2 separate regions of the Homo sapiens genome follow, and region 1 is linked to region 2. Evidence: fine-mapped expression QTL. Tissue or cell type: blood mononuclear cells. Region 2 holds a variant in brackets; the other region holds the start of a gene. All regions are shown on one strand. Distances are between the middles of the regions.

The links. PIP is the estimated chance that this variant, and not a neighbour inherited with it, causes the effect.
Region 1: it holds the start of P2RX1, and the variant in region 2 is fine-mapped to the expression of P2RX1 in blood mononuclear cells (TOPMed, PIP above 0.99). The same link has a PIP of 0.9 or more in whole blood.

The regions. Positions count from the first base shown.
Region 1 is chr17:3,915,056-3,917,734 of GRCh38, reverse strand. P2RX1 (purinergic receptor P2X 1) reads left to right here and starts at 1,270. Exons shown (of 12, transcript NM_002558.4): 1 at 1,270-1,646. The coding sequence starts at 1,510. RefSeq lists an enhancer at 2,097-2,166.
Region 2 is chr17:3,885,439-3,888,117 of GRCh38, reverse strand. CAMKK1 (calcium/calmodulin dependent protein kinase kinase 1) reads left to right here. Exons shown (of 16, transcript NM_032294.3): 2 at 2,388-2,679. The coding sequence starts at 2,431. Among named protein-coding and RNA genes, the nearest start is that of CAMKK1, 6.3 kb to the left of the region's middle. RefSeq lists an enhancer at 1-45. The variant A/G (reference allele first, on the strand shown) is at 1,257.

The DNA.
Region 1 (2,679 bases), 30 kb before region 2:
ATTAGCAGAAACTCCGCGAGGGGTGAGGCTGATCTACTTGACAAGGAGAGACTGACCTGGGTGCTGGAAGGGGCCATGGGCAGCCCTCTGTGGGTGACCCCCATTCAGACAGGCTGCCGGGATTCCCAGCCCCAGGGCCTGGCTCCCTGCCCAGAGCACTTCCAGCTCATGGCTCGCCAGCAAGAAGACTCCTTATCAGCCTTAAGGGTGGGGCGGCTCCGACGACAGGGCCGTGGGGGCTCGCCAGGGAGGCCCCTGCTTCCAGCTTGAACCTCCAGTACCACCCCGGGTGAGCTTGGGCAACTCATTTCTCTTCTCTGAGCTTGGTTTTCTCATCTTCAAAACGAGGGGTGGGGCTGGGGAGGCCTCCAGCTCTGAGGAGCCAACGTGGGACCCTCTGCCCACCCCAAACCCCTGTGTTCAGGGCCCGAGCTGGGGGTGGGAAGGGAAGGCAGGGACTGCAGAGGTGCTGTGCCCCAGACTCAATGGTGGCCTCCAGTTCTCTGTCCCGTGTTGCTGAGACCCATCCCCTGTGAGCCTCGACCTAGAAGGAACAGCCCTTATTACCCCAATTTACAGATGAGGAAGCAGGCTCGGAGAGGCAAGGTGACACCCAGCCCCCACAGCCAAGAAGTGGCAGAGCCAGGGATCTCCGAGGTCAGGCTCTCTCGGCTGGTCTTGGGCCCCCCATGGCACTGGTGACGGATGTGGTGCTGGTCTTGGCTGGGCACCTGCCACCTCTCTCCCTCTGATGGTGGCCCCGGCAGGACAGACAGTGGGAGAGGAGAGCTGGGGGATAGAGATGCCAGCTCAGCACCGAGGTTGACCGGGCACAGGCCAGGCTGGAACTCAGAGCCTCCTTCCTCTCTGCCTTGCTCGCTGCAGACCCCCAGGGACGAAGCAGCCAACCCTGGTGGGGGAGGGTGGAGGGTGGTGGATGGGGCTGGGGATGGAGGTCTCATTTTGGCAGTGGAGGGGAGTCGCGGGGAGTCCCCTAATCTGAGGAGACTCCAGCTTCCCCCAGGCCCTGGCCAGAGCTCCATCTTGCCAGGTTTTGGGGGGAGGATAACTTGAGGAGTCGACTGAGAGCTTTATCTTTGCCCCTGTGACGGGTGGCCTGTGGTTTCCTGCCAACAACTCCTGTTTCCGGAGGCCCAACAAGGCCCACGCAGAGCCAGGAGGGGCAGTGGGGCTGGGCCTGGGTGGCCCCACCAGCCCCGCCCCATCTATCTTTGGGAATTTATTTGTCCATGGGCGAGGCTGGCCTGCAGTCTGTTGCCTTCCAGGGGCCAAGAGCTGCTCTGATCACCCAGGGATTCTCTCTCCAACCCAAGTGCCTCCAGCTGACCTCTGGCTCCTGTCCTCTGGCTCCACCTGCACCGCCCTGCTCTTCCTAAGGGGCCAGGAAGCCCCCAGAAGCTCTACCATCGACGTGGGTGGTGGCACCCGGCTCACCCTGAGAGCAGAGGCCGTGCAGGGGGCTCAGTTCTGAGCCCCAGCCGGCCCACCATGGCACGGCGGTTCCAGGAGGAGCTGGCCGCCTTCCTCTTCGAGTATGACACCCCCCGCATGGTGCTGGTGCGTAATAAGAAGGTGGGCGTTATCTTCCGACTGATCCAGCTGGTGGTCCTGGTCTACGTCATCGGGTGAGTCCGGGCGCCTCCCGCTGCCTGCACCAGCCCCTACCCCGGGCCTGTCCTCCAGACTCTGACATCCCTTGCGTGACACCAGCGAGCCCCTCTTCCTCTCCATCCAGGGGAAGGCCTTCCTGGCAAGCCACTGTGCGAGAATAGAAAATCCTGCCAACTCGCTGTTGAGATGGGGACGAGGCCGGAGGGGAAGCCCTGCCCGGGGGCCTTCGGTGAACAGGAGGCAGAGTCTCTGGGTTCTGAGGAGCCGGCTCAGTGTTATGGTTCCTTTGAGTGGTTAGTGGTGTTCAGGGCCAGGGCACCACCAACCACAGCCACTGAGTCCTCGACCTCTGACCGCCTGCCAAACCAGGCCGCCACTGACACACAGAGGCCATACCCCACACCCGTCACCCCATATGACAAGTTAGAGAGAGACAGACTCTGCTGCCAGCTTCCCTGCCTGAGCAAGGGACATCCAGGGACGTTTGAGGCCCCCGGAGCAGAGAAACTCTCACATTCTGAATACCTGGTGCCTTCATGTTGGCATGTCAGGCGGAGGACAGAGATTGGTTCTGGTCCCAGGGATGATAGTTCCTTTCTGGGCATCTCCGGACCTGTCCCACCGGGCTGGGAGTGCAGAATCAGAGGCAGCGTGGGACGCTCCTGCAGTATGGTTGTCTCGGGAGCCAAGACAGGCCTGGCAGAGGCTGGCACACTTGTGAGTGTGCATATGGAGCTCTGTGCCTATATGTGTCTGGGTGTGTGTCCCTGGTGCTGAGTGCCCACATGTGGGTACCCTTATGTGTACATATGGCTGTGCCCATGTCTGCCCTGTGGCCAAGTGTCTGGGTGGCCAGTGTGTGTCCCCTGTGTGTGGTGCATCTTGTCCACTCACAGTGACTCTGCAGAGGTCTCCTGGAGGCCCCAGGGCCACTGGAGGGGGCTCAGCCCCTGCTGGGGTCCTAGGGGTGCCCAGTAGCCCCTGCCTGCCTTTGCCGTGTGATTCTGAGAGCTCTACCCTCCCCATTTTTACCATGGTTCCGAACCA
Region 2 (2,679 bases):
TGTTATATGTGCTGGGGCCTGAGGCTTGCTGGGGTTGCCTCTCTGAGGCTGCTTTCTCATCTGTCTAATGGGGACAGGGCTGTAACGATCACTATGGCAACCACTCATTTATTCAACAAATATTTATCGAGTTCCTATCACATGCCAGGCACTGATGATCTTTTGGAGACAAGGCAGATGAGCGTCCTAATCTCATGAAACTTACATTCGGGAGGGAAAAACAAGGCATGCGGAGTGAGGGGAAGGGGCGGAGGGGTGGGCCACCTGCTGGGAGGAGCCTGGCGGGTCCTGGAGGGTGTTCCCAGCTTTGGCTTCCTCCTTCCTATGCTGTCTGGTTTCCAAGCTCTCCCCGAAGCTCCAGCCCCACTCACTGTCCCTCTCACCTCCTCCAGGGAGGCCTCCCTATGCCACAGCCTCTCACCTCCTCTGGGGAGGCCTCCTTATGCCACAGCCCCACTCTCTGTCCTCTCTCACCTCCTCCAGGGAGGCCTCCCTGTGCCACAGCCCCACTCCCTGTCCCCTCTCACCTCCTCCAGGGAGGCCTCCTTGTGCCACAGCCGCACTCACTGTCTCCTGCCCTCTCTTCCAGGGAGGCCTCCCTGATACTCTAGCCTCACTCAGCCTCCTCACCTCCTTCACCTCCTCCAGGGAGGCCTCCTTGATGTTCCAGCCTCATTAACTCCCTCTCACTCCTCTGGGTCCAGCTTCCATGACTTTTCCTGTTCCTAGTGTGGAGCCTCCTCTCTTCCTTTCTCCATGTCAGCACCAGCCCCACCGCCTCCAGGCTTCTACTCATTCAACACACTGCGTACCGGGCACAGGGGGTCTGGACCTCACCCTTACCCTCAGTCTACCTCCAAACCCTGCTGTGAGCCTGGAAAATATGGGAAGGCAGGGAATCCACAGGACAAGTCGGGAGACTGGGGCTCAGAGTCGGGAAGGAGCTGGTCTAGGGCCCCTGGTGGGTCAGCAGGCAGGACTGGAACCCAGTCCTGGCTCCTCAGTGGCCGGTGGACTCCAGCCAGCCCTGCCTCGCTGACATCTGTCAAAGCAAGGGGATGGGGAACGAGCGGTAGAGCAGGCGCTTCACCATGCGTACTCTGGGTCTCCCTGAGACCCATGTTCTCAGTTGCTGTGTGGGTTCGGAGGAAGTTACCAGCAGACAGGAAGGATGGAGGGTCAGGAGTTCACTCACTTCCTTCTCCTGAGAACATGCAGAGTCCAGCGCAAGCAGGGGGAAGGGCATCAGGTTGGGC[A/G]TGGCCAGCGCTCTACAAGCCTGGGACAGAGATGGGGGTCTCAGGCTGAGTGTCAGGGTTCAGTCCGGGGTCAGGATGTAGCCCAGGGTCATGGCTGAAGGTGAGGGCTGGGGGTCACCTCCCTGATGTTTCAGCCGCCACACAGTGAGTTTGAGAACATGAGTCTCAGGGGATGTCATGCCCCTGTTTCACCCCTCATTCCCCTCATTCTCATCCCCTTGCTTTTTTTTGAAACCGAGTCTTGCTCCGTCACCCAGGCTGGAGTGTAGTGGCGTGATCTTGGCTCACTGCAACCTCCACCTCCCAAGTTCACACGATTCTCCTGCCTCAGCCTCCCGAGTAGATGGGATTTCAGGTGCACGCCACCATGCCTGGCTAATTTTTGTATTTTTAATAGAGACAGAGTTTTGCCATGTTAGCCAGGCTAGTCTCGAACTTCTGACCTCAGGTGATCCACCTGCCTCGGCCTCCCAAAGTGCTGGGATTACAAGTGTGAGCCACCATGTGGGGCCCATCCCCTTGTTTTGACAGACGTCAATGAGGCAGGGCTGGCTGGAGTCGGGAGCCCCAGGGAAGTCTTCCTGGAAGCAGTGAGAGGGATGGGGGTAGGAGGCTGAAACATCAAGGAGGGCTCCCTGGAGGAGGCGGGTGGGTCTGAAGCATCAGCAAGGCTTCTGAGTTACTAGTGTCTAGCTCAGCTTCCAGGAGGCAGTGTCGGAGTGCTCTGCTGTCAAGGGTTGGGACTCATGACTCACAGGGCTGCATGCTGTGCTGGGGCTGAGCTGACCCTGGGCTCTGCCCCTTCCAGTGCTGCTGGGCCTCCAGGCTTCTGCCCTGTCTGTCCTGATTCCAGAATATCAGATTCTCTCTGCTTCCCTGTGAAGCCAGCAGGCAGAAGTGACTGCCTCTGTTACCGGCAGGGATACTGAGGCCTAGAGGGCTGGCATGCGGCAGAACCGATGTGAATTCATTCAGGTCATAGGGACAGACTTGAGTTTGGGTGTTGGCAATCCCGGTAGAGGGAACAGCCAGGGCAAAGGCATGGAGGTGGGACCCACAGCGCTGTGGCTACCTTACCTGGTAGCCAGCCTGACACCCAGGAGTGAAGCCTTCTCTGCCTTCTTTTCTCAGGTTCCCAACAAGGCTACGCAGAAGAACCCCCTTGACTGAAGCAATGGAGGGGGGTCCAGCTGTCTGCTGCCAGGATCCTCGGGCAGAGCTGGTAGAACGGGTGGCAGCCATCGATGTGACTCACTTGGAGGAGGCAGATGGTGGCCCAGAGCCTACTAGAAACGGTGTGGACCCCCCACCACGGGCCAGAGCTGCCTCTGTGATCCCTGGCAGTACTTCAAGACTGCTCCCAGCCCGGCCTAGCCTCTCAGCCAGGAAGCTTTCCCTACAGGAGCGGCCAGCAGGAAGCTAT